Linked DNA regions of Homo sapiens: region 2 is linked to region 1. The links come from fine-mapping of genetic effects on gene expression. Tissue or cell type: fibroblasts. Region 1 holds a variant in brackets; the other region holds the start of a gene. All regions are shown on one strand. Distances are from middle to middle.

Evidence for each region. PIP is the estimated chance that this variant, and not a neighbour inherited with it, causes the effect.
Region 2: it holds the start of DPF3, and the variant in region 1 is fine-mapped to the expression of DPF3 in fibroblasts (GTEx, PIP above 0.99).

The regions. Positions count from the first base shown.
Region 1 is chr14:72,662,963-72,669,128 of GRCh38, reverse strand. All of the region lies in intron 8 of DPF3 (double PHD fingers 3), which reads left to right. Among named protein-coding and RNA genes, the nearest start is that of MIR7843, 150 kb to the right of the region's middle. The variant A/C (reference allele first, on the strand shown) is at 3,647.
Region 2 is chr14:72,890,390-72,896,555 of GRCh38, reverse strand. It overlaps DPF3 (double PHD fingers 3), which reads left to right and starts at 2,455. Exons shown (of 11, transcript NM_001280542.3): 1 at 2,455-2,499. The coding sequence starts at 2,468. RefSeq lists an enhancer at 2,201-2,495.

The DNA of each region.
Region 1 (6,166 bases):
CTTCCACTTTTCTCATGCTTGAGATGTGTATGTGATCGCCTGGGCATTTATTCTCAGTTTTGAGGGAATGAAAGTAACAATCCCAACCACTTTTGGGTTGTTCTGTCTAATCTATATGTGGCCTGTTCCTAGGAAATATGGCATAAACCTCCAAGGTTGTCATATTCTGCATGCTCACACGTCAGCCAATAGAGTTTGTTCCAGTAGGTTTCTGCTACGGGGATACAATGTACACTTGCTGTCATTTTCCACCTCTTTACTCTGTACCTTTGACTCAGATATTGGATTCATGGGATTACAACTTGCTTTCATTGATAAAATGTGAGCTTCTATGTTAATAAACATATGTTCAACCAATCTACACTCTCATTTGAATTCTGTCTAGTTGCTCATAGTCCCAGAATTCTCAATGACAATTTGCCTTTACACTTGAGGTGTTTTTTTTTTTAATCCACATATTTAAAGCAAATTATAAAAGGCTACCTAATTTCAGAGTCTAGCTTGGAGTCTAACAGAGAAACTAACCATTTAGAACTAACAAGGCAAACTCCCAGGAGAATGTTTATCTGAGAATGGGTATTGCTTGTCTATTTTATATTTAATAGTATAGCTTGATATTTGATCTTCAGTTTCTCTTCTTGGAGGTAGTTGATATCCTCACTTTTCTTCCTTGGGGTAATAGAAGCATAGTAAGGTTTCTTAGCATGGCCAGACCATCTTGTCTCACCTTGCTTATAGAGTCTTTGAACGGACTCAAGATTTATACCCTTAAAAACTGGAAGGGACTTTTAAGATGATCAAGTTCAAATCTTTCACTTTTCAGTTGAGAAAAGTTGACCCAGAGAGGTTAAGTGAGTTAAGTTGGAGGGACTGGGATGGGCATTGCATTGGAGGGAAATGTTTTAAGGCAAAGGAAGGAAGCTCCGAGAGAGAAGGTGTCGGATGAGGAAGCTGGCTGTCCTTGGTTTCCAACCACTTTAGTGGTGGATGTGATATCTTTATCTCCCTTTTTCTAGATAGCAGTCATCTACATTTTTGTGTGAGGCATTATTCTGGGCGCTTTCCTTGGAATATTTCACTTAATCCTCATGACTACTCCCATGAGATAGGTGTTTATATTAATCCCCAGTTTGCGGAAACTGAGGTTAGTAATAAGGTTAAGAAATGTACACCTAGGAAGGAGCCAGGTTTTGATCCCTGGCAACCTGATTGTAGAGCCTATACTCTATCGTTGCCTGCATTGCCCCTTGCATAGTCTATAATTAAGGAATATATATGCATGCATGTATACATACTTTGCTGTTTCTCAATTCCAACTGAAGAAAAGGGTTTTTGTAATGAATATAGCTTTTAAAAGGTAACGTCATTAAAAGAAATTTCAACAACGGAAGAGTAAGCAATTAGATCCTGTAAAAGAGAGTTCTAATTCAGATTCTCTGCGGAATATTGTAGATAACTTACCTTCTTAATCATCACTTCTAGACAATGTACAAAGAGATCACCTTTTTTGTGACCTTAGGAATTGTAGGAGCTGTGTGAACAGTCAACACACCTTTCTGTTGTTGCTTTTGTTAAATAAGTATCACTACTCAAAATTTAAAATACAAAAGAAATTAGAGTCATCAAGATGAAAACGATCTGGCCAGCTTCCTTTGCCCTCAGCTCAGTAAAGTACCACCCTGAGTTTTCTGAGTCCCAGGCCAAAGAGAGGGGAACCAAAGATATAGAACTTTCTAAATTTGTTACAACATTTTAATCCCCTGGGGAGGGGGGCTGTTGACCTAAAGGTGACAATTGTTATGGTCTAGCTGATTTTTTTCCCTACCTAGAACAATCAAATCCTTTATTTCTGTTACTGAGAGACTATGTAAAGATCAGACACTATAATCACTATGACCCTGGGAATTAGAAATATGCATTTAATTTTTTAGAGGTACTATAAAGACAGTAATCCAATTTGCTACCGGTATTTTAGAGAGAAGAATTTAATAAAAAAAAATGTGATGTTCACATCAATAGCATCCCTTTAAGGGTTCCTGCTTACTCTGCATCTCTCTCTGCATCTAATGGGCTACAGACTGATACTGCTTTATACAGCACTGGAGGGAATGCAAGATCATTACTCAGGGAGAGAACTAAAGGGTGTTTGGGGGTTCTCACCTCATGGTGGAATAAAATTAATTAATTTTATCCCAGTATACCTCCTGTTACATCTGATGAATATGATCTTGAACGTGTACTTAAAATTGGAGCAGACTCATCTGTTAGGAATTTTTCCTCAGGGGATTTTGCTCAGCCTTTGGAGGAGAAGTGACTTGTGTTGTGTATTTTCTGAGTGAGGTGTCTTTGATCTGGTGTGTGGAAGCCTAGAGTGGAGATGACAAGTTCTGGGCTCTGGGCTCAGCTCCCTGTGTGAATTTGTTGACAGGGATCTCTGCCTCAGTTTCTGAGAGAGGAAATGGACATTTCTTTCCCTATTAGAATATGTAGCTTATATTATTTCATGATGATGCTTAACTCTATGAGGTAGGGTAGATGTTATTTATTCCCGTTTTACTGATGAGGAAACTGAGATTTGATCCTGTTTGATGACTTGTCTAAAGTTCCAGGCTCAGTAAATGATGTATGGATCTTCTAATAATCTTTCCTAAGTCTATACTGACTTCCCCAAAGATCATCTTTGGAAGATTTCTTGAGTGAAATCAGTAAAATGCCTGTAGGTCTTTTATTCAAGAATTTATTGGATGAAAAGGAGGTATTTGATTCTGTAAAAGAAAAAACTGAAACAACAGAAACCCCAAATGAAACTATGACACATTAGAATCTTTCTGAGAAGTAGCAATGTCTAAGTCCTCATGAACTTTCTGGGAGAACTAAAGTTGAGCTTCCTAAATGGTCACTGTTTTTGTGGTGCCAGTGGTAGCGGGAGTAATGGTGGCAGGGAGTGAACATTTTGGGCCCTGGTCACAAACCCAATTGCTTCTAACACAAAAACATTGAATTATATAATATTGTGGTGTTTAATAAAAGTGATTTCTGATCACCTATTCAAAATAGCAATATAGGAAAAGCCATTCTGCATGATTGGTTTACAAAATAAATGGGAATGATGGAAGATTCCTGTCAGAACTGAATTATTAGATAAAAAACATTGGCAATTAGGTTTTCAAAGTATCTCACCACTGGAACTCAACCAATAACTATGGCTTTTTAAAAAATTTACTTCTGAAATAATTTACACTTACAAAAAACTTACAAAGATTTTACCAAGAATTCCCATATGTCCTTCACCCAGATTCTTCAAATAACCACAGTACAATGATCACAATCAGGAAATTCACATCGATGCAATGCTATAACCTACAGACCTTATGCAAATTCTGCCAGTTGTCTCACTAGTGTCCTTTTTCTGGTCCAGGATCCAGTCTGGGCTCACAGGTTGCCATGTCCTCTTACAAGTCCTTTAATCTGGAATAGTTAGTACTACAATCTTGTTTTTCACAACCTCGATACTGGTTAGTCATTTCATAGCAAAAGCCATTCAGTTCAGGCTTGGATGCTGTTTTTCTAATGACTAAACTGAAGTTGTGCATTTTGGTTAGAATACCTTAGAAATGATGTTGTATCCTTCTCAGTGCATTACATC[A/C]GGAGGTATGTGATTGATTTACCCCATTACTGGTGACTCAGACATTTGGCCTTTCAGCTGAGATTTCAGGCTATTCTGTTTACAGACCTTGGATGATAACATTTTCATTCAGATATACCTCGGTTCATTTGGCAACTAGGGACTGAGTAATAACAGTATGCGTGTGACTGCTCAGCACTGTCAAGGATAGGATAAAATTAAACATGGGGCAATGAATTTATTGGCCATTGGATTTATTTTGTGACCTAGTGGATCAGACTAGAAATTCACAAATAGTTAAAATCATGTAAGAGCTGTCATGGGGTAGTATGTGATTATTTTTGCCATGGATCTCAGTAGACAAGAAGATTTTCTTGGAGGAAGCCATCTAGATCAACAAAGAGCTCCAGATGGACCGTTGCTGTTGAATCTGTAGGCAAGAATGTCTATTGTCAGAGACAATGGAGATAATATTCGAACAAAAAGCAAAGCTGGGAATCACAACCTAACCCATGTAAAATGGCAAAAATCACCATTTGAAAACCCGCCTAAGTACCATTCCATAGCATTTTGTTCCTGCCGCTCCTGTGCTTATCACAACACATCATGTTTGCTTGTAGTCCTTCTCAAACAGATGGCGTGTTCCTTGAGGGCAAAGGTGATATCACTCATATCCTCCAGACAGTGCCTGACACCAGTGTGCCATAATTATTTGTTGAAATAAACTGAGAACTGAGCAGTTTCTGAGATAATTAGTGGAAGTCTTACCAAATCTCACTCTATGCATAGAGGATGCTTAATAAATATTGTTGACAGAAAGAATGGAGAAGTCTCTGGACACAGCATCCAGTGGTTAAGTCAGAGGGGGCAGGTGGGAGGTGGTGAGGTGGTGGTGAGGGGTAAAGGAGAGAAAAGGGGGATGTCAGGACAGGGGTGGGGAGGGGTTGACCATGTGTGTGGAGGGGTAGAAAACTATGCCTTCTTGCAGGGGATTGAGAGCAGGAGACTAAGAACACAGCTGCACATTGTTTCATTTTTGTGGCCTGCAGTTGACCTGACCAGAGGAAACAAAAGAGAAAATGGAAGTTAGGAGTGCCAAGTTGGGACTCACGCATGATTTTCTAGGTGGCTTTAGTGGGGCAAAGGAAAAATACATGTGTGTGTGTGTTGGGAGGTCGGGGTGGAAATTTGAAGAAACTGAAAGGTGTGGGGTAAGCTTATGAGACAGACTCACTACAGAGTGGCAGGTAACATCTGACCAGAGGGGTCAGGGCACTGGGAGAGGGACAGAAAGACTCCTGGCAGGGAGTGAAATGATGACAGATGCCCATGGAGAGAACAATCGGCAGGCGTTCTGTGGGAGGTCCCAGGAAAGGTCACCTGGGTTTGATCAGTCAAGGGAAGGAGCTAGAGGCAGGTGGTGACAGCAAAGAGCATGAGGGAAGTGGGGGTAGGGTGCACCAGCAAAGCGGATCAGAAAGGGAGACAGTGGGGTGGGATGGGGTAGAGGCAAGGAACAGGAGCAGGTGTGGAGGGAGGACTTGGTCAAGGAGGAAAGTTGGATGAATGGAGTCTCAGCTTTGGAAGAGCATCTAATCCAGGCCTGTGCACCTGGCCATTGAGTGATGCTTGGGTACCAGGAGAGGTGGGGCAGGGGAGGGGCCTTTCAACTTGGAAGAGGCTGAGCTGCTCATTTGCTTTTGAGCTTTTTTCCTTGCTGGCTTGGCCATTTTCCATTTAGGCCCATTCTCCCTCTTCTCCCTCCCTTATCGCTCAGCTTAATGTGATCTAGGCACTGTTGGGACACCCATCTCTGCTTTCAGAAACTGCTTCCGGGGTGAAATGTGGCAGTACTTGGTTTCATTGCTCACTCCTTTGTGTCAACTACTCCGTTCCAAAGACCAAAATGGCAGATTTCATTTCAGCTAGAAGCAAAAGCTATGCGTGGCTATCCAGGCAAAAGGGCCCACCTGTGTGAACCACCACCAGGTTCCAAGGCTGACAAAGGGATCACTGTGCTAGTAGAGGACTGGAACTGGTCTCTTGGTTGGGGACTGTCTCCGAGTAACTCTGACACACTTGAATCACTTGGGGCAGGGTTGGGGCTGAGTGTGAGTGCTTGTGAAGGAAGCAGTGTCCTTTTGGGCTTAGGCCAAATGAGGCATCTGATGGGGTTTTCTGTGGCTGAATTGGTTCTATACCATAGAACTACTCATTTCTACTTGGATGGCAGGGAGAGAGATGACATCATAAAGGTCCTTTCTGGGGTGTTTTAACTGTGAAAAGATTCAGTTTGTTTGGTTTCTAAGTGGAGGGGAATTTTTTTTTTTTTTTTTTGCTAACACCCAGTTCTGCCTGCTACACCACCTGGGAATTGACCATCCAGCTGTGTTCTCTCTGCCTCTGGCCCAGTAGCAACTGACCTGCCCTATTCCTGGCTGATCTCATGCTGCTGAAGTTCAAGGCGCTGGACACACTACCCTGATTTTTGTTGCACCTGGCCTAGCCTCATTAACTTGGCAATTAGTTGGTGGTTTTCTT
Region 2 (6,166 bases), 230 kb before region 1:
AGAAATAATAACATGGATTGAAAGCTTGCTGTGTGTCAGACACTTGACATGTATTACCTCATTTAATCCTGGCAAGTAAATATGCCCAAGGTAACCCAGCTGGTAAATAGTGGACTCAGGCTGGTAGATTCCAGAGCTCATACTTCTGCCATGTACAGCACTATGAAATTGCCCCAGAACTGCCAAACTTCTCCAAAACTGTTTAAGGATACTGTCCTCTTTAAACATGCCTACTCTTTGCTTTTGAACCTTCTGGTTAAAAAAAAAAAAAAAAAGAAATCTTTATATTTTGATCTATAATGTAAACATTAAAGTAAAATAACTCTTTTGTTAAATATAAGTGTTTCTTTAAAAGTCATAACTGTATTGATAGAGTTAAAATGACATTCCATTGGGTTACAAAAAGCAAGGCTATCCTTTTTTTTTTTTTAAAGTACTGTCTTTAATTCACTATTTTCCAATCCAATCAATAAATCTGATCTGACATTTTCAAGTTCGTTAGGTAGTTAGAGATTATGCTGGTTTCTGCATCCAGGCCTTAACACAATAAATGATATGTACATGCTTAGAGTATGTGTTTTCTTTAATATGTAATATACATTTGTTTTTTCTCTCTTCCCCCATTGTAAATCTTGTTCAGGACATGCTCTACATTTCCTCCTTTATCAGGCTGCATGTAAGAAAATACGTTGTCGTCTACTAATCTGAATTGTTGTGTCTTTGATACCTCAAAGAGGTTATTGGGAGTTCTAACTGATAATTCAAACTCATACTTCTTGGGTCAGAATACAGTTCTTGCTTTTCAATGATGTCAAGGCCCACCTCAGGCAAAGTATAGGCTTCTGAACCAATTTCTTGTCAAATTAGTAAAGAAGGGATTTTTCAAACTTCAATTTTGGAAAAGGAGATAACTTTTTCAAACTGTAATCTCTGCCAAGATGCTATGCAAAGGATTTACAAAGGAATCTATAGAACTCAATTCTGCTTCTTAAATACGCAGAGAGGAGTTAAAGATTTCAAATCTTTTAAAAACATAGTGATTCAGCCACGTTCTGTTTATCTGTAAATCTAATAGTGTATGTAGTTGAACTCTTAAAATTCTGGAATGTTTATTTTATTTTATTCATTGTCTTGAGAGGAGCAAAAGGAAGCGAGAGGGCATAGCTTTGAAGAACTGGCAATTTGGCAACTTCTCTCCCCTTGCCACCCCTCCCCCACTATCTTAGCTATTTGATCTGATTAAACAGCTTTGGAATGGTAGCCAGACTTCTGTATGCTAACGAGGCCCCTACCCTATTCGCGATTTAATGCGATTTCATCCCCCCAGAGCTTCCCGGTGCCCAGTGGAAGCCTGACTTCGCAGAAGTCTCCCAATTTTGTCAGGGGCTCGCCAGTGAAGAGTTCACACTGACTTGAAGCAGACACAGACTCATTGGACGCCTCGGGTCACATCGGATTATTCATTAGCAAATTCTTTCCACCTTCTATCTAAGTAGTGAAAGGTGACGCCAGAATCGCGTGTGCCACTCCTCTAAAGGGACCCTGATAACACCCAGTCCAGGCTCTACAACTTCTGCCTAGTCACTTGCTTCCTAGCAGTAGAAAGTTTCCAAAGGTTGCCTTAAGTCCTCCCTACCCCTAAGCCTAAAGATCAGAGCTCCAGGTCCCACCACCTAGCAGGAATCTGAGCATTTTGGAAGTTTCTGGTGTAGAGGGAAGAACCGAAGGGGTGGTAGCGGGGAACCGCGCAGAGTAACCCCCCTGCACTACGTAAGGAAAGCCCTGGCTGCAGGAGGGAGCGAGCCTGACATTGAGACGTTCCAGGGGGAGGGTGAGTTGCTGTCCTGGAGTCGCCAGGAACAGCAGCGACAGTTCCAAGAAGCGAGAGAGGAAGGTGGCCGAGATAAAGAGAACACTTCGGGAATAAGAATATTAAAAAGCGGCAGGACCCAGAGCATTAGCAAACGGCAGAGCACATGTAGTAATTTGTTAACACGAAACGGCAGCCTTCCAACTTTTGCACTGAAACACGGGGATTTACCCTTTGGGGGATTAAAAATGTTGATACGCAAAGCCAAAGGCTAATGAATAGGATTCAGTGGCTTGCTGGCAATATTTAAATATTTCTGTCCGGGAGCGCAAACTCTTCTGCAGTTATTTAGAAAAGTAGGGAGTTAAACCAAACTATAATACTCTCCCGTGCGTCTCCACTTTCCCCAGCCCGAAAAGGAGCTACCAGCGCTGTACTGCCCCTTTAAGACCTGCTGGCTCTCGGGCTCTACAAAAGGGAGTGACCTCTGGGCTTTGACAGCTCTCCTAATAACTACCACGGCGCAGGCCCCGCCCACCTAGCTACCAGCAGCGCCGATTGGCCGGCGGGCCGGTATCCCGCGCTGTGATTGGCCCGTCGCTTCCCCTGAGCGAACCTTTAGAACTCTGAGACAATATTCTGTTACATTGTAGCAAAATGGCGACTGTCATTCACAACCCCCTGAAAGCGTAAGTAAGACTAAAAAATGTACATATTCCGCGTGGTTTCAATATGAAAAAAAAGGCGCCTTCTGCGTGGCGAGCGCTGCCAGAGCATTGCGCTTGCAGGCGCCTCCAGCCGCGGCGGGGCTTCTCTCTTCTTTCAGCTCTTACTTCTTCATCTTCTTTTTTTCCCCCAACGCGCAGAAATGTCAGGAGATGCAATTAACAAGAAGAAAATTGTTACATTTGTGTTCTGCTAAATTGCAGAGAGAGCCAGATATAGGGGTTGCAGGCGGAGAAGCCCGGCGCTCGAGCGCTCTACAGCAGGAGGGTCGCGGGAGCTCGGGGACGGCGCGGTCCCCGGAGTCCCCCGCCTCGCGGGCAGGGAGCGCGGCTTCGGGGGCTGCTGGGCGGGGGGCGAGCGTCGGGCAGTGGCCGCCTCGGTGTACTTGGCCGAGCCCCGCGCCCCCGAGCCCGCGGCCCCCGCCCCGCCGCTGGGTCCGCTGGGTCCAGCGGACGGACCGCGGAGGCTCCGGAGTTTGCAGGGCGCTCTTCGCCTTCCGATCGCTCGCGGGGAGTTTGTGCAAACCTTCCGGAGTTGGAGCACCGCGGGGGAAGCAGCGGGTCCCGGGCGTGCTGGGGCCCAGGTGGTCGCCCCGGGCTTTCCCCGGCAGCCCCCGGATCTCGGAGGCGCTCCGGGCGATCGAGCGTGTGTCTGCTCGTGTATTTGCGAGCGAGCTGGCTTTAGTGGATTAACGACTCGGGTTAACTTGGGGTGGATTTGGAGGCAGGGAAGCCGCAGGTCTTATGAATGGTGTTCTCGCCACCTCTGGGTGAGGCGCTGAGGCAGGCGGAGAGGCGGTTTTGGGGCTCCTGGCCCGAGGGGGCAGCGTCTGCTCCCGGCCGGGCGAGGGGCAGGTGCCTCTGGCCGCCTCGGGGAGACTTTGAGCGCTTGCCCAGATCCTGGACAGAGTGGGGCGGGCCGGGCGAGGACTCGCGGGGGCCAGCCCCGGGTCCAACAGCCAATTTCTGCCTGCCTGCCTTCCTCCTCCTTTTCATCCTTCCTTCCTTCCTTCCTTCCTTCCTTCCTTCCTTCCTTCCTTCCTTCCTTCCTTCCTTCCTTCCTTCCTTCCTTCCTTCCAGTCAGTGGAACTGTTAAGCCGCCAAGTCCGCTCGCGATCGCGGAGCCAGGGGTGGCCTCGGAAAACTAGTGTCGCTCTGAAAGGGGTGCTATTGGGTGATGTCGGCAGAGGGTGGCTCCCTCCGTATCCGAGGTGGGCTGGGGGGTCCTCACCCCTTCGACCGGGACTTCCCCGCCCGGACGAAGCCGCAGGCGAAGTGGCAGAGGGAGGTGCAGGTCGGGTGGGGGGCGGTTCATGCCGAATTCTCCCTGGTGCGTGGCCGCTGTCGACCCTGGTTCTTTTAATTCAGCGCATTCTCGTCTTCACCCCTGGCCACTCCTGGAGTTGAAAACCAGGTTCGCTCCCGGGGACGGTAGGGGGTTCCTAACGCAAAGGAATGCACAGGGAGAATCGGACGTGTTTGCGCCAGCTCGTCGCCCATCAGAAATAGGGAAAGGGGTAGGAAGGCCCCAGGTTTCAAATATATTTATATGAAAGCTGCCGTTAAGAGGACGTTGGAAGCTGAGGCTGATCAGATAGGAGCTCCTGGCTTCAGTTCTGGCTCGGAAGCTCGGATACACTGCGCTTGAACGCCACAGCGTTTCACCCAAGAAAGAAAATGTTTTATGGCAGAATAAATGGGCGTAACTTCGCCGCATCCTCGCTGCCGGTTGCTTTCGCTGCAACACCGCTGATGCTGTTTCTACCGAACCCACAACTGATTTTCAGTTTCCCCATTTCCAGCCGAAATCACATAACCGGGCTGATGCCACCTGGTAAACTCAAGTTAGAGAACCTATTTCACATGTGCACCAGGTTTGTTTCCTCCTGGGAAAGCCGTACCCTAGTTACCCGGGAGCCCGCTTTCGCGCGGGCGGGCGCAGTATCTCTAAGCTTGTGTTCCCCTACTCGCTCCAGGGTTTTTTGGATCACAGTAGGGTGCGTGTTTGGGGAGGGAGTCTGTGTAGGGTGGGGTTAAGGGTGGGGGAAGGGACAGACGCGGGAAAGAAGGTGGCGGAATTCTGGCCGGTTAGTGGAATTAGTTCTGAATTGTACTTTGTATAATTAGAAACAGTTGCAACGTGATGTATTTGTAATTGTGTTGCCACCCACATGCAGACACTAGCATACACACAACGCCCCTGCTTGCTTTTTCTAGGTGGGAGTTGCTTGGTCATTTATAATTAGCTATTCCTTTCTGCTTCCCAGACCCTTTCCCTGTGAGTAAAGGGGTATAAACAATACCACTGACCAGCCCAGCCTCTCACACCCTGGACAGTTTTTGACAACTCCTAACGCAGGAGCACACACGTTGTTATTGGGAGAGGGACACCATCTGCCTTTATTTTTTTAAAAATAACTTGTTTAATAAAACATCTTATATATTTCATTTGTTTTTAAAAGTTGCTGATCAGGAAACAATACACACGTGAATAAATTATGCATGGGATAAATTAGAACAAAGTGCAGAGACACATCCAGCCGAAGGGATGGTGGTGGTGCAGGGAGGAGGGGTAGCGGGGAGAATGGTTTGGAGAGCTATGTTTTTATCCTCATGTGTCCCTCCTGACAATGAAACAGAGCTGAACGACATTAGCATTTTCTCTGTGTGCGTTCTGAGTCTCTCTCTTCCCTCCAAAAAAAAAAAAGCCAACACCACGGACGTCTCCTACAGAAAATGGTCACACAAAGGTTTCCTCAGGATGGGGGGATAAAGTGGTGGTAGTTAATGTGTTGGGAAGAAACAAGCTCAGATTTCCAGCAGCACCTATGCAGGGCTCTGCCTACGCTGAGTATGGGCTATTTTTCACTGTACTAGCTTTTTCCACGTGGGACATTCAATAATTCAATTAGCTGGGGTGATGGGATGGCACAATTTTGAATCTCATTGCTTTGGGGTTTTCCTTAGGGTCCCAAGCTCCTGAAGCCACATCTCCTCTCTTAGCAATTTGGCTTTCTTCCTGCCTGTCTTTGATCTCCCCTCAACTCCCTTTCTTTTTCTTCCTTGTTGTACCCTTCACCCCCTTCCTCTCTGAAGCTGACAGCCCAGCTTCTCTCTCTGTTGTCGCCTTTAACATCTTATTACTGCCCAACAGGGTGTTAGAGGCAGAAATAGGAGCCGCCTGCACTGATCAGATCACAAAGGGGACACGGCAGGTGGCCCCCACAACCAAGCAGTCACATCTGGACAAATAGAATTCAAAAGCACTGGTGGACATGTATGATGTGTAAATGTGTATTACATATTATTTAATTTAGCAGCTACATTGTCTGAGCAAAGATGTATGAGAGTTACCCTCATTTCTTACATATACAAGCGAGATAAGGCCCAGGTAGTGAAGTAAACACATGCAGGTAACATAAATATGGATTTGATAAAGGCCTGCATGTAGATTAGTCACGTTCTGGTTGATTTGTGCATACCTGGGAAACATAATGCTATTATTATTATTATTATTATCATTATTTTTTGAGACAGGGTGTTGCTCTGTTGCCCAGGCTGGAGTGCAGCAGCAGGATCTTGGCTCACTGCAACCTCTGCCTCCTGGGTTCAAGTGATTCTTGTGCCTTAG